3 linked regions of the Homo sapiens genome follow. The protein of the gene in region 1 purifies or fractionates together with the protein of each later gene. This does not show direct contact. Each region holds a gene or a part of one and is shown in the gene's direction. Other genes may lie near its edges.

Region 1 (7,369 bases):
GCTGTCCAATACGGTAGCCACTAGCCACAAACCACTTGCAATATGGCTAGTGTAACTGAGGAACAGAATTTTTCATTTTATTTAATTTTAACTAGTTTCAATAGCCACACATAGCTAGTGGCTCCTGCGCTGGACTATGCAGATATGGAGAATTTTCTCTATGATAACAAAAATAAGACAATAGTGAGTGGGGAGGGTTTAGGAAAGCTAGAAAGTGTCTGCCATCTAAAGACAGTGGCTGCTGCTGAGTGTCAGCAGATTGTGGCTACAGGGGGAAGCAAATGTGTTTCCATTACCTGTTGCTACATAATAAACTGCCCCAGAATTTAGTGGCTTAAAAGAACAACCATGTTATTTGTTTACAATTCTGCTATCTGGGTTGAGGCTCAGCTGTGTGGTTCTTCTGCTGGTCTTCACATGGCTGCATTCAGTAGGCAGGTCATCTGGAATGCTGAGAATCCCCTCTCCACATAGTTGCAGACTCCTCCTCAACATATGATGGAAGGCAGGTGGACGTCTAATATGATGGCTCCGGACACCCCAGTCATGAAAGTGGAAGGTGTCAGACTTTAAGCCTGTGCCCAGACCAGGCCCAGAGACACTTTTGATGTATTCTCTTGGTCAAAACAGGTCACAGGACAGGCCCTGTGGTGTGATCTCTGAGGAATACATAAAGGCTTGAATACTATGGGGCATGGTTCAAAGTGATGGGATCATACTAATGTAACAGGTAATCACAAGTCCAGCATTGCCAGAGCTCACATTTATTTTCCCCAAATAGCAAGGCATCCAAATTTATATGTGAAACCTTTCAAACTGTAACTATTAGTTCACTTTCTTTTGGTACCAGCTTTATGGAGACATATTCGCATACCATATAATTCACTTATATAAACTGTAGAATTCAGTGGTTTTTTAGTACATTCACAGAGATGTGCACCAATCTTCCCCTCCCCTCCCCCAGTATCAGGAAACTGTACTAATCTGCATTGTCTGTATGGATTTGCCTATTGCCTATTCTGGCCATTGCATATAAATGTGATCTTGCCAGATGTGGTCTTGGCTCACTTTTTTGTTTTTTTAAACTTAGCTTTAGTTTTCTCAAATGAGGCAATGCAATCGGATTAGTTTACTATCATTCAAAAATGGCAGAGTGTATTGAGCACTGTTTGGACACTGGGTTATCACATGATTCAAATCATTTGCTTTGCTTTCATTCCATGTTTAATGTTAATTTTACTCTAGACTTTGCCTGAGCGTCAAACCTATCAGTCTTAGAAAAAATACTCAAAGATTCTGTCTCCTCTACCAACTGCAAAGTGGAAGCAGCACTGGACTCATAATTAGATATAAGCCTTTCATTGAAGTCTGAGTTCTATTGCTTTCTTTTTTATTTTTTATTTTGAGACAGTTTCGCTCTATCACCCAGGCTGGAGTGCAGTGGCGTGATCTCGGCTCACTGCAACTCCACCTCCCAGGCTCAAGCGATTCTCCTGCCTGAGCCTCTTGAGTAGCTGGGATTACAGGTGCGCAACACTACCGCCTGGCTAATTTTTGTAATTTTAGTAGAGATGGGGTTTCACCATGTTGGCCCGGCTGGTCTTTAACTCCTGACTTCAAGTGATCTGCCTGCCTTGGCCTCCCAAAGTGCTGAGATTACAGGCATGAGCCACTGTGCCACTGCACTCCAGCCTGGGTTACAAGAGCGAAACTCCATCTCAAAAAGAAAAAAAAAAAATGGCACATATGTGTGTGTGTGTGTCTATATGTACATGTTCAAGGACATATATTAGTATCCAATAATAAGTTAAAATACTAATATATGCCCTTGAACATGTATAGACACATATATATACACATGTATACATGCACACATATACACACACTTATATACACACATATATACATATATACACACAGATATACATATGTGTATACACACACATATATGAGAACATAAGGTGACTTGCATCATTTACATTCAACAAATGGTCAGTCATTCACTCATCCAGTTCAATCTAATACCTATTTATCATTGGCAAGTGCTGTGCCAGCCTCTAGAACTACAATCGTGGTTAAAACAAAGATCCCGGCCATCCCAGCTTTGAAGACAGGCATTCAATAGTTGCACAAAATAAGTATAAATTATAACCGGTGCTGTGGGAAAAAAGTATAGGGAGTTCCAAGGCCATAAAAACGGGGAGCTAACCTAGTGTGGCAGGGTTAGGAAAGTGATATTTGAGCTGACAGCTGGAAATGACAAGCATCAACAGACAGGTGGCAAAGGTCCAATTCGGGCATTCAATTATTCTCTCCTTAGACATTGATTAAATATATATTGCCTGCTGTGTGGCAGCACTGTGCTGACCATCAGTCTATCTGTCGGACATTTAAAAAAGTTTTTTAAAAAGAGAATGCATGCAACTTCAAGACTTACTGGCAGGATTACTTCTCCAGATGACCTACTGGCAAGCCAACTTCCCAGCTACTGGCTCCACCCTCATCTTAGCTGGAGGGAATGATGAAGGAAGAGGAGGTGGTCTTACACTAATTGAATCATTGCAGCAGCTGTGGATCACGATTCCTTTCTTTCTTGCCTTTTTTTTTTTTTTTTTTTGAGACAGGGTCTCACTATGTCACCCAGGCTGGAGTGCAGTGATGCCCTCACTGCTGAATGCAGCCTCTACCTCCCGGGCTCAAGCAATCCTCTTGCCTCAGCCTCCCAAAGTGCTGAGATTATAGGCGTGAGCCATCATCCCAGGCCGGGGTCTCAATTTCTTTTTTTTTTGTCTTTTTTTTTTTTTTTGAGACGAAGTCTCACTCTGTCACCAGGCCGGAATGCAGTGGCACAATCTCGGCTCACTGCAACCTCTGCCTCCCTGGTTCAAGCGATTCTCCTGCCTCAGCCTCCTGAGTAGCTGGGACTACAGGCGCCTGCCACCACGCCCAGCTAATTTTTGTATTTTTAGTAGAGACGGGGTTTCACCATGTTGGCCAGGATGGTATCGATCTCTTGACCTCGTGATCCGTCCGCCTCGGCCTCCCAAAGTGCTGGGATTGTAGACGTGAGCCACCATCCCAGGCCGGGGTCTCAATTTCTGAAGCCATGCTGAGGGCCATTTTTGGGCGGCACTCTTTCACTCCACTATGTGCCAGGCGCTGTCCCAGAGGCAGGGGGCACAGTGAGGAACAAAACACAAGAGAATCCTGCCATCAGGAAGCTTACACCTGTTAACACATGCAGGTTGGGGAGATAAACGAATAAATTAAAAAATGTAACAGGTAATAAGGAGAAAAGAGTAACATGATGGAATGGGATACTCGGGCCTTGGACAGGCTAGTGAAAAAAATGTTTCTCTGAAGTCAACACTTCGGTGGAAGGTTGAAGGATGAGAAGCCAGCCATGCAACCATAGATGGTGTAGGGGCAGTCTCTGGGAAAGCCTGAAACAGGCTGGAGCTTGCCTTGTTCTAAGCCAGTGAGTCTCAATGGGGGCGTATTTGCCCCCAGGAGTCCTTCGGCAAAGTCTAGAAGACATTTTCGGTTGTTAACCTGAGGTGCTAGGGGGTGGAACTGGCCCCTAGTGGATAGCAGAGGCCAAAGCTGCTGCTGAACATCGTGCAACGCACAGGACAGTCCCGTCGCTCAAAGTGCCAACGATGCACGGGTTGAGAAACCGGGTCCTCTCCAGGACTGAAGCCCAGGGCAGGGAGCACGGGGGCAGCCTGAGCAAACCCGCCTGGAGAGCAGCCGCCGTCTCAGTGTGAGTTTTGGCTGCCTACTGGGCCCCACCGAAGCCCGAAGAGGGCCAGGCTCCGGCTTCTTTGTTTAAACTCCCTTAGTCCGACTGCCTGCAGTGGCTCATGCACGTAATTCCAACACTATGGGAGGCTGAGACGTGAGGAACGCTTGATGCCAGGAGTTCGAGACCAACCTGAGCAACAAAGCGAGACCCCATTTCAAAAAACTGTTTAAAAATTAGCCACAGGCAGCGGCGAGCGCCTGCGGTCCCAGCTACCCGGGAGGCTGAGGTGGGAGGGCCGCTTGATCCTGGGAAGCTGAGGCTGCAGTGAGGCGTAACCGCATGACTGCGCTCCAGCCTGGGCGAGAGAGGGAAACCCTGTCTCAAAAAGGCAAACAAAGGCTCTCGGCCGCCAAGCTGCGGAATCCCAAGCTCCCCAAGACACGCAGTGATCCAGAATACCGGCCACCTCCTCGCCTAGTGCCCGGGGCGGGGCCGGAAGTTCCGGCGAGTGGGGCGTTGAGCAGCGGCGAGCCCGCCCAATAGGGACATCTCAGGCCCGGCAGTCTCGCGAGAAGGGCGGCGGCCCTGGGTTCTGGGACAGGTGACCCGGCGGCGGGGCGAGGCAGCTGGCGGCGTCGCATGGAGGGCTCTGGGGGCGGTGCGGGCGAGCGGGCGCCGCTGCTGGGCGCGCGGCGGGCGGCGGCGGCCGCGGCGGCGGCTGGGGCGTTCGCGGGCCGGCGCGCGGCGTGCGGGGCCGTGCTGCTGACGGAGCTGCTGGAGCGCGCCGCTTTCTACGGCATCACGTCCAACCTGGTGCTATTCCTGAACGGGGCGCCGTTCTGCTGGGAGGGCGCGCAGGCCAGCGAGGCGCTGCTGCTCTTCATGGGCCTCACCTACCTGGGCTCGCCGTTCGGAGGCTGGCTGGCCGACGCGCGGCTGGGCCGGGCGCGCGCCATCCTGCTGAGCCTGGCGCTCTACCTGCTGGGCATGCTGGCCTTCCCGCTGCTGGCCGCGCCCGCCACGCGAGCCGCGCTCTGCGGTTCCGCGCGCCTGCTCAACTGCACGGCGCCTGGTCCCGACGCCGCCGCCCGCTGCTGCTCACCGGCCACCTTCGCGGGGCTGGTGCTGGTGGGCCTGGGCGTGGCCACCGTCAAGGCCAACATCACGCCCTTCGGCGCCGACCAGGTGAGCCGCGCCCCCGCGCGCTGTCCCTGTCCCTGTCCAGCCCCTGCCCAGCCCCAGCCTCTTCCCCTGCCCCAGTCCCTGCCTCTGACCGCGGAGGGAGCCCCTTGCCCCGGGGGGCTTCTGTCTAGTGCCGAGGAATCCCGCCAGCAGGTGGGCCAAGACTGGAGGTACCGGTGTGATGGGTGCTGGAAGGGGTTTGCCTGGGGCGGGGTGAGGTCTACACACACAGTGATGGCCACAGTGGCTTTAAAGAAAAGAGAGGCCGGGCGCGGTGGCTCACGCCTGTAATTCCAGCACTTTGGGAGGCCGAGGCGGGAGGATCTCTTGAGCCCAGGACTTTGAGACCAGGTTGGGCAACACAGTGAGACCTCATCTCTACCAAAATTTAAAAATTTGCCCTCCGTGGAGGCGCACACCTGTAGTCCTAGCAGAGAAAGGAGGATTCCTTGAGCCTACGAGTTTCGGAGGCTGCAGTGAGCTAGGGTCACACCAGTGCACTCTAGCTTGGGTAACAGAGTGAGACCCCACCTCAAAAAAATAAATAAATAAAATTTAAAAAATACGCTGAGCGCAGTGGCTCACGCCTGTAATCCCAACACTTTGGGAGGCCGAGGTGGGTGGATCACCTAAGGTCAGGAGTTCGAGACCAGCCTGACCAGCCTGGCTAAAAATACAAAAATTAGCCGAGCGTGGTGGCGGGCACCTGTTCTCTCAGCTAGTCGGGAGGCTGAGGCAGGAGAATCGCTTGCACCCGGGAGGCAGAGGTGCGATGAGCCGAGATCGCGCCACTCCACTCCTCCAGCCTGAGCGACAGAGCGAGACTCTGTCTCCAAATAAAAATAAATAAATAAATAAAAAATAAATGAACGGGACCCTTCTATGTTCAGGCCCTGTAAGTTCAGACCAGAAGGCTAGGAAAGAGCAGTTGTTTGAGGAGCTTTCCAGACATGGGGATTCGCAGGTGCAGGGCCCTGGGCCAGGAAGCTGAGGGAAGGGGAAGCCCCCGTTGTTGCCTTAGCTTCCTTTACAAAGAAGTGGGAAAACACTCATATTGCGTCTTCGTGGCTTTAAAGGAGTTACGGGCTAGGTTGGGTCGGAAAGCTCAGATGAAAATGAGTTTGAATCAAGTTAGCATCAAGCTGCTCCCCTGCAACTGTAACTGCCAAGAAGTGAGGGAGGAACCACTGCAGCTCTTCAGGAGGGGCAAGGACGTGGCCACCAAGTATTATATGCAGAATAGGCCGCCTTTAAGAGCAATAGCAAAGTCAGATCGTTTCAGAAAATATAAAAAAAAGTGGGAAGTGAGGTGGAAGGCTGGGGCCGGATCATGTGAGGAGTGTTAAAGCGTTGGGGATACAGTCGAGAGCTTTACTGGGTTCCAGCAGGGAGTGATTTGTGCAGAGCAGGCACTACAGCTGGGGTAGCAGGTCAGGTCTGCTTCTTATTTTCTGAGGATTCACAAGCTAAGAATGGTTCTTAATATTTTCTTTCTTTCTTTTTTTTTTTTTTTTTTGAGGCGGAGTCTCGCTCTGTTGCCAGGTTGGAGTGCAGTGGCGCGATCTCAGCTCACTGCAACCTTCACCTCCTGAGTTCAAGCGATTCTCCTGCCTCGGCCTCCTGAGTAGTTGAGACTACACGTGCACGCCACTGTGCCCAGCTAACTTTTGTATTTCTAGTAGAGACGGGGTTTCACCGTGTTGGCCAGGATGGTCTTGATCTCTTGACCTTGTGATCTGCCTGCCTCGGCCTCCCAAAGTGCTGGGGTTACAGGCATGAGCCACGGCGCCCAGCTAGTTCTTACATTTTTAAGTGGTCGGAAACGGGATCATTTGTGACCAGTGAAAATTTTATGAAAATCAAATTTCAATCTCCATAAATAAAGCGTTATTGGAACATAGCCCCACCTGTTTCTGCAACACAGCCACTACACTGGGGCTGCTTTCACTAAGCAGTGGCAGAATTGAGTAACTGTGATGGAGACGAGATGTCTCATAGAACTCAAAATGTGAACTGCCTGCCCCTTCACAGAAGTGTGCGGATGCTTGTAGAGAATGGGTTGTGTAGGAAGTGGTGACATTAGGGACATGAGGTGGGAGTCTCTCCTAACTAGAGTGGAGGCAGTGGAGGTGGGTGAAGTGGATGGATGGAGTTCAGCTATGGAAGTAGAATGGGCAGGAAGTACTGGCAGGTTGTCTCCCTGTTTGTGTTCCTATGTAGGAATACCTGAGGCTCAGTCATCTATAATGGAAAGATGTTTCTTTGGTTTAGGGTTCTGCAGGCTGTACAAGAAGCAGGGCGCCAGCATCTGCACTGCTGAGGGCCTTGTGAATGGGAGCCAGCTGTGTAGAGATCACATGCACTAGAGGAAGTGAGAGAGGGGAGGGAGGTGCCAGGCTTGTAAACGACCTCTCTCATAGGAGAGTTCACTCCTGTGACAGC
Region 2 (7,106 bases), on another chromosome or scaffold:
TTTTGGATGTTAGGTTTGAGTCTAATATATTAGGGCTTTGCAGATCATACTGCATAGATGGTCAGCAGCCATAACATCTGCTTAGAAGTTATTTCTTATTAGGATTATGTCATTACATTAATTTTTAATCATCCATTCTTTTACTTTTCCAAGCTGAATGCTCTAGTTGCACCTAAAATTCTTCAGTCACAATTAAGATGCCTATAAAATCTCTACTAGCCACCATCTTTAAAGGAAACATAATTCTGAATTTTACAATACAATAAACTTGATTATTCAGACACTGATGATTTTTTCATCTGGTTGTCCTTGACCTTTGCTTTTATTAACACCTCCTGCTCTGTGCTTGTAATGCCAGCTACTCTGTAGGCTGACTCAGGAGGATCATTTGAGGCCAGGAATTTGAGACCAGCCTTGGTAACATAATAAGACCCTGCCTATTAAAAAAAAAAAATGCTGAACGTGGTGGCTCAAACCTGTAATCCCAGCGCTTTGGGAGGCCGAGGTGGACAGGTCACTTGAGGTCAGGAGTTTGAGACTAGCCTGGCCAACATGGTGAAACCTCATCTCTACCAAAAGTGCAAAAATTAGCCAGGTGTTGTGGTGCGTGCTTGTGGTCCTAGCTACTCAGGAGGGTGAGGCAGGAGAATCACTTGAACTCGGGAAGTGGAGGTTGCAGGAAGCCGAGTTCGCGCCACTGTACTCCAGCTTGGGTGACAGAGCAAGACTCTGTCTCAAAAAACGAAAACAAAAGCTAGGCATGATGGCATGCTCCTGTAGTCCCAGCTACTTGGAAGGCTGAGACAGAAGGATCTCTTGAGCCCAGGAGGTCAAGGCTGCAGTAAGCTATGGTTACACTACTACATTCCAGCCTAGGTGACAGAGCAAGACTCTTGTCTTAAAAACAAAAACCTCCTGCCTTTTCTTGGGGGTAATTTCATTGCCTTTTAGTGAAGTAGTGGGTAACTAAGATTGTTGTCTTGCTAATTGCTAGCATTTCTGGGAAAAGTTTGGTACAGGAAGTTGAAATAGATGGATAAAGTTTGTATTAACTGTGAATTTCAGTTATTTTATCCTAGTGTCCCACTAATTGGATTGAATTTGAGAGGATATGAGAGCAGATTTTAAAAATTTTATGGAGTGTTTAGCCTCTTTCTAGGAAAATCCTACATACTTCCAGAAATTTCGAAAAAATCTTTGGTAGACTAGTAAAATTTCAAATTGTGATGGTGTTCTTGATAAGTAATACTTTTTATGAAATATCATAAAGAGCTTTAAAAGTATATATTGACAAGTTTATCTTGTTTAGTTCAAGTAGCAAAATACTAATGCAGTGTAAATAAACATAATATGACCTTTGTTTTTCCATTAGTGAAAAAGTTCACACTTTTAATTTCTCAACAATACATTCTGTAGTTAAAGCTTAAATATTATCAGAGAACATGAGATTGAGAACATTAAGTAGATACAGAATTTCTTTTGCTTGTTTTTTTTTTTTTTAGCATATTTTAGGTAGTCTTAGAATTATAGTTAAGTCTATGTACCACTTTAGCCAAGTAAAGAACAACATGTTACCACCTACTTAACGTGCCTTTAATTTCAATCTCAAAAATAACTAGACAAATTTAGACAAATGGTGCTGCTTAAGATAAGATGTTAGAGAGGTTATTGGGTTTTCAAATGTGTATAAATACAAATATAAACATTAAAAAAATAGATTACTAATTATCAGGCATATCGCTTTATTCAATAATGAGGAAATGCAAAAATTGCTCCATATGAACATGTTCATGTGTAATAAAGTACAGAACACTGGAACTTGAAATGACCATAGTTAAATAGTATACAATCTAAAAATATTTCATAATGACCCACCTACCAGAATATCTAACTAGAATACTTTTGCACTTTCCTTTTTAAAAATAAATTACCAAGCGTTAGGAAACCATTTGTAAGAGATGTCTTTGTTAATTAAATATATCAGGTTGTATTCTGGTTTCTTTTTTTGAGACGGAGTCTCACCCTGTCACCCAGGCTGGAGTGCAGTGGCGCAGTCTTGGCTCACTGCAACCTCCGCCTCCCAAGTTCAAGTGATTCTCCTGCCTCAGCCTCCCAAGTAGCTGGGATTACAGGTGCACACCACCACGCCCAGCTACTTTTGTATTTTTATTAGAGACAGGGTTTCACCATGTTGGCCAGGCTGGTCTCAAACTCCTGACTTCAGGTGATGTGCGTATTTTGGCCTCCCAAAGTGCTGGGATTATAGGTGTGAGCCACCATGCCCAGCCTGGTGTCTTTTTAAAAATTTTTTTGAAATTCTAGTTCCCTGGTGTGTCTAGTCAGCTGAATTTCTTACCCTTTCTATATTTCTGTATAATTTTAGTTGAAGTTTAGAATAATGCTCTGGAATACAGGGAATTTTTCAGTGATCTTCAGAAATAGATTCTAAACTTTTAGCCACAAACATTGGAATTAAAAAGTTTCTGTTCATTTTTAACTCTATTCAATTAACAATGATTAAATGAGGTCTTGCTCTTGTGCTGATTTTATTATCTGATCAGTAATCCAATCTGAAAGACGAATATTTTAAATTAAACTAAATTATATATTTGAGAAAAGAGTACAGATCTCTAAGACATGGTAGTCAGGATTTTTTTTTTTCTTAAAGCAGAATCCATTTAATAGAGAAATGCAGACATTTTCCCTTTAGTGAAGCGAAGTTGTAAATTCTAGGTTGAAGAACTATTTGGTTTTAAGTTGTATATTTTATGTAAGTATATCAGATACATATTTATATACATAACTATTTATAAATATATATTTATATAATTATATAAAGATTCCTTGCTTTAAAATTGCCCTTTGCCCCGTAAAAATTCTTAATGTGTAAACTTACACAAAGCAAACTATTTTATTTGAAGATATTTATTACAGGAAATAGACATCCTTTGAAGGCTGAAAGCCCTTTTTCAACTTTGTTGGGCTCAAACCTTCTGGTTGCTCTGCCCGCCACCAAAAGTGCTACTTGAAACTTAGAGTTTCTGAGAAGTCTTTGAAGTAGATTTGATACAAGATATGTAAAGTGATTTGCAATGCCTTCTTGAGAAGACAGGACATAAGGAAAGTTTTTAAAAGTTAAAATTATACATGCTATGAAAGTCTTAAAGTGATTTTTAAACTGATAGATTATAAATCCCTTTTTAAAAGTAGTTTTTCTTGGCTTTTTAAAAACCTTAACTAACATACTATACTGTTTTACTCATCACTACTTTGGATTTTAATTGCTACACAACACATCTATTACAGCTATCCCTCATTATGACAGTTTCCTTGATAGCTGTTGAAATTGTACTGATACTATAAAATATGCTTACGATGGCCTCTTCATGTTAGCAATTTCAAGGAAAAATATTTATCAAATAGTACTTTAAAAATAAGCAAAAACTGTCCTATGAAATGCAGTTTATTTGATCTAGAGTGTGAATGAGTTGCAAGGACTGATGTACATATTAGAAATAAACTGTTGGGCAAAATGCTGAAGAGCTATATTTTCAATAATAGGTCTTTTTTATACCTATAAACAAATTATATATAAATGTTGGTGGTACCAGAGCATTGAAAATAAAACTTGTTTGTGATAAACGTCATCACTGGTTCTCTATCCTGAAATGTAACTGAATCATAATAAAGTGCTATTCATCTGCAGGTGCATTGCTTCTACTTAGTTAAAAGATGGTTGAAAGGATAGGAATTAGTAGCATGTTGTATTAGCCTTTTGTAGTGTATTTTGTCCTAAGCATCTTAATTTCCCTGTTTTGAATGCTAAGTAGCAAGGGTCTTGGTTTAGAACTAATACCCATCATGCATGTAAACGGTATGAAAGAGCTGCTTAGTAAGTTAACACAAAGTGTTCTTGTGTCAGTCCTTGTGGAAATAGATACAATACAAACATTACAGCTGAACTCACGGCAAACTCCATTAAGTAAAAACCTGGCCTCATTGTTCAGGAAAAAGTTTGAATAGAATACAAGCTCATTTTGTTGAATGTAATGTCAGGCTTTTAGGGACTGTATTGAGGGATAAGGTTTTGTTAAGTTGAGACCAATTCATTAAGTTTTATTGCCTGGTGAGAAGCAGCAATACTTTATTGTAAGACTTCATCAAATATTCATGGTTAAAGAGAAGTAGTAAATGTATTCAATCAAGTGGTCTTTTGGGATTTTGAAAAGGATTATGAAGTCTGCTCAGCTGATAACATTGATAGAGGTTGTTTAACAAGGGTAATTTTAATCTCCGAGTTTAGTTTTGTTGTCCAGTCTTGTCTCTTTTTTACTGTCACAAATCCAGGTCTGTAAGAATTGTGTCACATTCTAAGGATAAAAGAATGATATATCCATTCATATAATTTATGTTATTTCCTAAATATGTATATTTTTAAGTTATCATCTTAGTTTGAGTTTGGCATATGAGGGAATTGTGACCCATCTAGTTGTGAGATTGCTATTCATTTGGTCAGACTCTAGTCTCATCTCACCACTGCTGGTGATCTTTTCATGTCTTGGATAATATGATTTCTTTGACACATATAAAATAATAAGCAACCTTTTGCCTTGGCCAGTTCAGACTGTCATGAAGGGGTATAGTCAGCTGTTTCTGCATAATGGAAATGTCCATAGCATTGCCCTTATTATTGTACTTGGTATCAGGTCACCTGCCTTCTCTTATTTACTTTTATATTATGCTCATCTCAGTTTTGTGTGATGCAGTTTGTGCACAGGAAGCTCATCCTTTTCCAATTCGCTGTGTGTTTACTTCTTTAGTTTTCAACCAAAGTTTTGTAATTTGTGTTGGTTTTGTCAGTTTTAAAGAAATAAACCATATTCAACTTAAAGTCGAATTTGTTATTAATTTTTTATATCCTTTATTCTTTAGGCAGATGATGTTGAGGGCAAAATTAGACAAATCATTCCACCTGGATTTTGCACAAACACGAATGATTTCCTTTCTTTACTGGAAAAGGAAGTTGATTTCAAGCCATTCGGAACCTTACTTCATACCTACTCAGTTCTCAGTCCAACAGGAGGAGAAAACTTTACCTTTCAGATATATAAGGTAAAGATAAATCTAAATATTTATTGAGTAAAGTTCTATTTGCCTGAAACCTGTATGTAGTTTTGTTGTCAGTGATTTATTCTAACTGCAGTAAACAAGTTTTAATCAGCATTATAAACCAAGATCTATTTTGTGTGTATGTCTGTATCTATGTTCACATCTTAATCTGAGACTTCTAAACATTTTCCCACAGGATAATTTTGTGTTCTGCGGACTTTCACTTACCTTTGTGATGAGTTTCACCTGACTTTTCCTGGCTTTTTCCCTAGGCTGACATGACATGTAGAGGCTTTCGAGAATATCATGAAAGGCTTCAGACCTTTTTGATGTGGTTTATTGAAACTGCTAGCTTTATTGACGTGGATGATGAAAGATGGCACTACTTTCTAGTGTAAGTACAGTTCTAAAGCAACAGTAGACCTTATTACCTCCACAAAGCCAGCATTTTAATTGTGGCAGCCCAATTATTGGGACAGTATAATGATATTTTTCCCAGGAAAGAAAAACTATTGTTTATGAGGCTTGAGTTTTCCTTCATTATGCTTTGGGAGACCTTGAGAATAGAGCTGAATTAAATGCTGTTGTCCGTTAGGGCCCTGAATGTAGGCTTAAACAGTAAAATGAGCTTTGCCTGTGTTTTCTTTTACTTGCCACCTATTCATCTTTATAATAGGCAAGTGCACTGAAGTGATGTAAAGAGGTCTGATTTATCCAAGTTGCTGCACACCAATTAAGTGAATTGTACATTCAGAACATAGCAGGTGTACCCATTGGGCCCTCACAGAGTAGCTTGCTGACACTGAAAATTCAGTCAGAGAATGGAAAAGAAAATGGACACTGCATGGGAGCGCGACTGTAATTGACCTGCTTGGCTTTCTGTTTTATCTGCAGATTTGAGAAGTATAATAAGGATGGAGCTACGCTCTTTGCGACCGTAGGCTACATGACAGTCTATAATTACTATGTGTACCCAGACAAAACCCGGCCACGTGTAAGGTAATTGGCAGTATAACACGTGCCTTGTCTTTTATTTCAGAAGAAGGAACTGCTGAAGTTTCCAATACTTGTTATAATAGTGTTGATTTGTTTAAAAAAAAAATCACTATTATTCATGGGCTATGTACTGATTTATTTCATTGTTCCCTTTGAAACAGTGTAGAAGATTAAACTAATTTTGAGTATCTTGATAATTTTTGGGTATCTCAAAGGTGGATTGAAAAAAAGATCACACAAACTTTAAAGTGTTTGTAATACTATAGTGATCTGCAGGTTTTAAACTGGTCATGTTATGATATTTTAATTTTAAAATAATTTCTTTACTGTAGTCAGATGCTGATTTTGACTCCATTTCAAGGTCAAGGCCATGGTGCTCAACTTCTTGAAACAGTTCATAGATACTACACTGAATTTCCTACAGTTCTTGATATTACAGGTATGTAAAATTTGATTTGTTACTGAAAGAGCCTTTCTAAAAATGTCTTCTTACTGATTGATTTTATTTTTGTCAGAAATAACTATTTTAAACAGCAACATTTTCCTAGGGTGTTTAAGCCATCTAAAGATGGCTTAAGTTTATGTTTTAGAGCATAAGCCTTTGTGGGGATTGGATTACATCCCTAACTGTGAAGTGCATAATGGAACAAATTGAAGATAATGAGCTGAATATATATGGGGAAGTCTTGGTCAGGCGTAAATACGTTGAAAGTATGGTATAACTTATTTGTTCACTTTATTTGGCAAACAGTTGCATTATTTAGAGGCAGCCTGCACTTTAATTTACATGTAGGGGCAGAATATTATAAACTTTACTGAGAAAAAAAGTCAAGGTAAATACTTCTTGAATAGAATACACATTTCCTAAAGTGTGTGTTTTGTATTCCTAAAATGCATGCCTTCACAACAGTAGTAGATAAGGTGAAATGTAGGCCTATTTGTTTTGGAAATGTCTTTCAGTATGGATTAGCCATAGAAGTAGTAGTATGAATAGAATGCTT
Region 3 (6,700 bases), on another chromosome or scaffold:
AGTGCCGGCCTTTCACCTCTGCAGTTGTGTCCCTGGCGGTCTCACCCGCCCTGCACGCAGTACAGTGCTGCCTGCTCCAGGAAAGGAACCCCAGGCTGTGGGGGGCACCCTCTTCCCGGAGCCAGGCTGCGAGCTGCACCACGGTGCACACCCATGGAGTGTAGACCTGGCGCTGCTAGACCCAGCTGGGCCGCCCCGCTGGACGCGGCTCCTGCTTCTGCTGGCATCAGGGCCCCGCAGAGCCTCTTCCCCTGTGGCCTCCCCATGGGATCCTTTTAGCCTTTCTGCTTCCCAGGGAGGCTGAGAACAGGGAGCCTTCTGGGGACCGCTGGGCTCGGGAGCTCAGGTTGCTGGGCTCCTGGAAGGTGACTGTGAGGCCCGAGACTGGGCAGCGGGGCAGGGCAGTCCTGCGGAGGCGGGAGTCGTGGAGGCCCCGTCAGCCCCTCTTCTCTCCTAGGCTCCTACAACCCCCTGACCCTCGGCCTGTTCACGCTGGTCTACTTCTTCCTGGCCTGCTGGACCTACGGGCTCACGGTGTCTGCCGGGGTCTTCATCCCGTCCCTGCTCATCGGGGCTGCCTGGGGCCGGCTCTTTGGGATCTCCCTGTCCTACCTCACGGGGGCGGCGGTGAGTGGGGCCGGAGGGGAGGCTGTGGGGCCCTGCAGCTGAGCCAGGTCTTGCGGCATCGCGGGCCGGAGCAGAAGTCCCAGGGCAGGACAAAAGTGTCGCACCTCACGTGGTTCACGGGCCGTGGGCGTTGTCCTCGCGTGGTTCACGGGCCGTGGGCGTTGTCCTGCTGTGGTGGCAGCGTGTACTGTGGCAGCGCAGCCCATGTGTGGAGTCTGGACCAGGCGAAGGTAGGGGGCGGAGGCTCGTGTCCTTATTCTTGAGAATGTGATGAAAAGCAGAGGTGATTGTGGGCTGCTGCAGAGCTGTTTCTAGACTCCATGGGGTGGATGTCCGGCCAGGGCTGCTCTCTGTGAGGCCGGGGGCCAGAGCGGCATACACTGCCCTCCAGACCTCAGCCCCCGCAGGCCTTCCTTCTCTGCCTGCCTCTGCTGGGACTGGGTTCTCTTATGTGTCTTCTGTTTCTCATTTCAGTCGCTTAAATAAGACTGAAAACCTGTAAGAGGCCCTGGCAGGAAGCCCCCGGCCATGCTTCTCATCCCCGGCAGGAAGCGCCCACTCCTGCTCCCCAGGCCCGTGTGCTCTGCCCATCTCCCTCCGCACAAGGGTTTGGTTTGGTTTTTAAAATTGAAACATGATTCAAATACCGTAAAACTCATCGTTTTAAAGAGGGCAGTTCAGCGGCGTTTCTCACGTTCACGAGGCAGTGCGGCCGTCACTACCACTTCTAGAATGTTCCGTCATCCCAGAATGGAAACCCTGTGCCCACCGACCCTCGTGCCCCGCTTTCTGCAGCCTCCATGCCTGGGTTCTGTGGCCCAGCCTGATGTTCCCGGGGCTCTCTGTGTCGTGTGTGCCGGGGTTTCACTCCTCATGCTGGACGGTGCTCCCTAGTTGGCCTGGGCTGCTGCGTGGTGACTGTGCCCTCTGCATCCTCCATGCCTGCCACTCCCCTGTTGCTCGGGTGCTGAGCGCCTGGTTCAGGCCAAGGATGCAGCCTCCGCAGCAGGGTGTACTGTGCTAGGTTGTTCTGTGTGTATGTACGCGGCCACGAGGTTTGTTCCTGGCTGTGGGGCTGCTGGGCCTGGGCAGGGCCTCCTCCGTCTGTGTATCTTGGTGGGTTTGGGCCTGCCACCACACTGACACCTCCTCCGTGTCACCTCCCACAGATCTGGGCGGACCCCGGCAAATACGCCCTGATGGGAGCTGCTGCCCAGCTGGGTATGTCCCAGCTCTTGCCCGATGGGTGGGGAGCTCCACGGGGTCTGGAGGGGGCCATGGCTGTCCTTGCGGGGCTAGGGTCTGGGAGCAGGTGGATGGGATGGGTGCTGCAGAGAAGGCAGTGGCCACGTGACCCTGAGCCAGGAGGGTGGACGTGCTGGGGTTCATGATGGCTCCCGCAGGCGGGATTGTGCGGATGACACTGAGCCTGACCGTCATCATGATGGAGGCCACCAGCAACGTGACCTACGGCTTCCCCATCATGCTGGTGCTCATGACCGCCAAGATCGTGGGCGACGTCTTCATTGAGGTGCGCCAGGGCCTCGAAGCCTCACCCTGAGAGCGTGGGTGCTGCCATAGGGGAGGGGCCCCTGTGAGCCTCCAAACAGCCGGTCCCGGGGGGTAGGCTCAGGGTTTCTGGGGGCGGCCTCTGGGCTCCCAGGGGTAGGCTCGGGGCTCCAGGGGTGGGTGTGGACTCCTCAAGCCCTGTGTTCCCGCCCCGCCCGCAGGGCCTGTACGACATGCACATTCAGCTGCAGAGTGTGCCCTTCCTGCACTGGGAGGCCCCGGTCACCTCACACTCACTCACTGCCAGGTACAGCGCCCAGGACACCTGTGGGTGGGGAGGGTGTCCAGCGGCCTCTTGTTGCACAGGGGCAGGGTGCACGGCTTGCGGGCTCCAGGCAGCCCCGCGTTTCCTGTCCAGCGGCTTCACACCTCACCAGCCCGCAGAGGTAACTGTGGGAGTTGGTGGCGTGTGACGGGCATGTGTGGCCGGGCTCCTCCGGCAGGGAGGTGATGAGCACACCAGTGACCTGCCTGAGGCGGCGTGAGAAGGTCGGCGTCATTGTGGACGTGCTGAGCGACACGGCGTCCAATCACAACGGCTTCCCCGTGGTGGAGCATGCCGATGACACCCAGGTACCGGGCACCCCATAGACAGGGTCCTGCCTATGTGACCTCTGTCGAGTCCATTGGTGGGAAGCACACGGCAAGGTTTGCAGGATGGGGAAGCTGCACGTTTGGGTGCACTGGCAGTTCCAGGAGTGCCGGAAGCTGAGTGTGCAGCCATGGAGGGCTGTGTGGACGCTGAGGCTGGTGGGGGGGGCTGCGGCCTGGCAGGGTCTTGGGGTTGGCACCCAGGCTGGGCTGAGAGCCGTGGCACTGGGGGCCGTGACTTTGTCAGGAGGCCCTGACAGGACACACAGCTCGGCCACTGCTGTGTGTCTTTTAGACGTGGACACTGGGTGTTTGGAGGTTGGTTTTTATTGGGACCCAGTGGGGCTGCATCTGCCCTGCAGCAAAGCCACCATCCCTGGGCCCTTGGCTCTCTGCTGTGCGCGGTCAGGCCCCGCTACCCTGTCGCCGATCCTTGGGTCCCGTGGCATTGTGCGTGTGGGATGCCATGGCGAGGCTGGTGTGAGCAGGTAGCCACCGACACGGGGCCCATGCCCAGATGGGAAATCTGGCCGGAACAGGGTCAGAGCGGGGCCCGACACAGCATTCCAGCGCAGCCTCCCACCCTCGGGCCCGTGGCCCTGACCGCGGGCCTGTCTTGCAGCCTGCCCGGCTCCAGGGCCTGATCCTGCGCTCCCAGCTCATCGTTCTCCTAAAGCACAAGGTGCGTGCCAGGCTCCGGGCCATTGGGCGGGTGGGGGCCCCGGGGGTGCTGCCTGGGTGCCTGACACAGGGCTCTGCCGCCCGCAGGTGTTTGTGGAGCGGTCCAACCTGGGCCTGGTACAGCGGCGCCTGAGGCTGAAGGACTTCCGAGACGCCTACCCGCGCTTCCCACCCATCCAGTCCATCCACGTGTCCCAGGACGAGCGGGAGTGCACCATGGACCTCTCCGAGTTCATGAACCCCTCCCCCTACACGGTGCCCCAGGCATGTGCAGGGCATGGGCATGGGCGTGGGGCCTGGGACTGAACAGCAGGGGGTGGGGTCCAGAGCCTCGGGGAGGGGCAGCCGGGGGGGGCCACAGCGGAGAGGACTCGGTGACTCTGTCTCCTGTGAAGGGCCTGGCAGGCTTTAGAGCTGAAGTCAAGGGGCTGAGGGGGCTGGCCAGACGGGCGTGGGGGCTCAGGACGTGCCTGGACGCCGTGGTGGGGGGTGCAGGGAGCCAGCTTGGGTGAGGGTCCCGCCTGCCTCTGCTGTGTGGGCGGGCACTGACAGCTGTGCCCCTGCTGCAGGAGGCGTCGCTCCCACGGGTGTTCAAGCTGTTCCGGGCCCTGGGCCTGCGGCACCTGGTGGTGGTGGACAACCGCAATCAGGTGAGCGGGGGCGGTGGGGGTGCAGGCATGCCGTGCAGGGCTCCCCTCTGCCTCCTGCCCGTGCTTACTCTCAGCTCCCGGCAGGGGACACGGAAGCACAGGACCCAGCACCGAGTCGGCCCATGCCCCATGGCTGCACCCCTCCCCAGCCCCGTGCTCAGCTCGGGGGCTGTGCTGAAGCCCCCAGGGCCCCCTGCCTGTGCTGCCCCAGCCACACACAAGGCAGGGAGCTCCACAGGCAGGCGGGAGCCGACCCGTGTGTCACTGTGGCCTGGACTTGTCCTGCAGGTTGTCGGGTTGGTGACCAGGAAGGACCTCGCCAGGTACCGCCTGGGAAAGAGAGGCTTGGAGGAGCTCTCGCTGGCCCAGACGTGAGGCCCAGCCCTGCCCATAATGGGCACTGGCGCTGGCACCCCGGCCCTTCTGCATTTCCTCCCGGAGTCACTGGTTTCTCGGCCCAAACCATGCTCCCCAGCAGTGGCAATGGCGAGCACCCTGCAGCTGGGCGGGCAGGCGGCAGGCGCGGAACTGACCCTCTCGCGGGACTGACCCTGTTGTGGGCAGTGGTCTCCCCCCTTGGCGCCTCCTTGCGCAGGCCCAGCCTCCACTCTCCTCGTCTAGGTTTCTTTACCTCCAGGGATCAGCTGTGTGTGTGTGACCTCCCTACCGGGCTATCGGCCTCTTGGGAGCCAGCGGCAGGGCCGGCACCTGCGTGCCTGTGCCCGTGTGCGTGAGACAGAGCCCTTGCCCCTGCTGCTGCCCCGAGGGCTGCCCTGCCCTGGAAGGGCCCCTCTGCCTCCACACCAGTGGAGTCTTCGAGACTTGGGAGCTGCTTGGCCTCATTTTCAGCCATGAGCAGACGGCCTGTGGTCCCTGGGCCTGAGGCACGGACTCGTAGCACCAGGGTTTGGAGGCTGCGACCGCCCCGGAGAGCAGCTTCACACTGGCGCCACAGAGGAGCCCCACGTGCACTCCCCGGCCTGCATCCGGCTTGGGTACACAGGCCCAGAGGACTGGGGTGACTCACGGGCCCTGTGCTGTGATGTTGAGAGCTGAGAAAAACCTCCAAGGCCCTGAGCCCCATGCCCAGCCCTGCCTTGGTCCCCCAACCCCCAGAGCTTGGAGTCTGGGCCCCACACCCAGCCCTGCCTTGGTCCCTGAGCCTCAGAGCGTGGAATTGCTGCCCTGTGGACACTGGCTGGGAAGGCAGGTCTTCCCCTAGCACATGGGGACCCCGGCCTCGAGGGTGACCTCCCTACCCCGCCCCTGCCAGCCACCAAGCGCAGGTGCAGCGGGGGCCAGACTCCTGCCGGCCTCAGAGGACACCTGGCCCAGCACAGGCAGCTAGAAGGGCCGGTGGGCACCGGGGCCGGGAAGCCCCCACCTCACCACCTGAGGGCCCCTGGGAGGCTCCTCTGGCCTGGCTGGGCTGGGTCTGGGGCCGCCACAGGCCCCTCACGGGGCGGCAGAGGCAACTTCAGTGTCCCTGTTAGAGCAACACGGGTCCCTCCGTGGGGGGCTGGGTGCGGCCCCCTGCCGTGTATTTCCTCCCCAGGGAGTGGGGCCTCCCCGGGAGCTGACGCCACCACCCTGCTTAGCCCTCACAGGGCCCCAAGGTGTCCGAGTGTGTTGGGTCTGAACGCGAAATAAAGAAATCCTCTCAGCCCGCCTTTGCCAGCGTCGTCCCTCCCACCCCACCCAGACCACGTCCAACAGCCTGGGACTTTCGGGACCCTGGGGTCGGGGCACCGTGTGGAGTGAGAAAGGCGTGAAAGACAGCGGCTGCGGCCACCCAGGGCACCAGCCACATCCTCTTCCTCGTCCCCGCCCCTCAGCCTCCCTCCTCTGGCTCCTGGCTGGTGGGTCTGGGGGCAAGGCAGAGGCGCTCCAGGTGGAGGGGGGCGGGCCGGGGTGCCCACGCTGGGGTGACGCAAGAAGAAAACTCCCGGGCCTCAGAGTCGGCGCCGGAAACCTAGGTCTGGGTTTCCCTCGTGGTGGTTGTGTACTGAGGACCTGGAAGTGATCATATTTTGGATATATTCGGTTAAATAAAATCAGCGGTTAGGATTCACATCGCTGCTTCTTGCCTTTTAATGGGGCTGCTGAGCAAGATGGGTTCCCGTGGAGCCCGGCTGTGCCCCTCACCCCGATGGCGCTGCCCAGGCCTCGGGCTCCGCTCGGACGTGGGCCTGGCTGTGTCCGGGGTGTCCTGGGGCTCTCGGCCTCCCTGCTCCCAGCGTCCCTCCCGGCGTGCCCAGGCCTCGTCAGGGCCTCCTTCCCCTCCCTCGGCAGCTGAAGAAGTCCCCTTTGCCAGAGGACACGTGTCTGCGCCCTCTCGGGAGTGGGGCCCCTCAGATCCATCCAGAAGCAGGCAGTTGGGGGGCCCTGCGGGAGTGGGAGAGCTGAGGGCTAGAGTTCCATTGGCAGTTGGGCTGTGAAGCCGTGAGGTTCTGGGGAGAGAAGGAAGGTTCTGGAACGGCCCCGCTGCCCCACACCTGCCTCCCTGGGGACCCTGAGAAGGCAGCCAGACGAGGGCAGCAGCTCGTCCCTCAAGGCCCAGAGCTCTCACGGGACTTCCTCTG

The links.
Region 2: the proteins of SLC15A4 (region 1) and HAT1 purify together in Homo sapiens (affinity purification with mass spectrometry; 2 studies listed by BioGRID and IntAct, with this or other methods). This does not show direct contact.
Region 3: the proteins of SLC15A4 (region 1) and CLCN7 purify together in Homo sapiens (affinity purification with mass spectrometry; 2 studies listed by BioGRID and IntAct, with this or other methods). This does not show direct contact.

What each region holds. Positions count from the first base shown.
Region 1 is NC_000012.12:128,820,959-128,828,327, reverse strand, and holds the start of SLC15A4 (solute carrier family 15 member 4), read left to right. Parts: upstream 1-4,369; 5' UTR 4,370-4,384; coding exon 4,385-4,930; coding exon of another isoform or gene 4,931-5,080; intron 5,081-7,369. UniProt on the Homo sapiens protein: Proton-coupled amino-acid transporter that mediates the transmembrane transport of L-histidine and some di- and tripeptides from inside the lysosome to the cytosol, and plays a key role in innate immune response.
Region 2 is NC_000002.12:171,960,406-171,967,511, forward strand, and holds part of HAT1 (histone acetyltransferase type B catalytic subunit), read left to right. Parts: intron 1-4,932; coding exon 4,933-5,112; intron 5,113-5,381; coding exon 5,382-5,503; intron 5,504-6,003; coding exon 6,004-6,108; intron 6,109-6,437; coding exon 6,438-6,544; intron 6,545-7,106. UniProt on the Homo sapiens protein: Histone acetyltransferase that plays a role in different biological processes including cell cycle progression, glucose metabolism, histone production or DNA damage repair. Coordinates histone production and acetylation via H4 promoter binding.
Region 3 is NC_000016.10:1,444,424-1,451,123, reverse strand, and holds the end of CLCN7 (H(+)/Cl(-) exchange transporter 7), read left to right. Parts: intron 1-457; coding exon 458-627; intron 628-1,796; coding exon 1,797-1,848; intron 1,849-2,030; coding exon 2,031-2,158; intron 2,159-2,357; coding exon 2,358-2,443; intron 2,444-2,639; coding exon 2,640-2,769; intron 2,770-3,409; coding exon 3,410-3,469; intron 3,470-3,555; coding exon 3,556-3,732; intron 3,733-4,037; coding exon 4,038-4,118; intron 4,119-4,406; coding exon 4,407-4,493; 3' UTR 4,494-6,189; downstream 6,190-6,700. UniProt on the Homo sapiens protein: Slowly voltage-gated channel mediating the exchange of chloride ions against protons. Functions as antiporter and contributes to the acidification of the lysosome lumen and may be involved in maintaining lysosomal pH.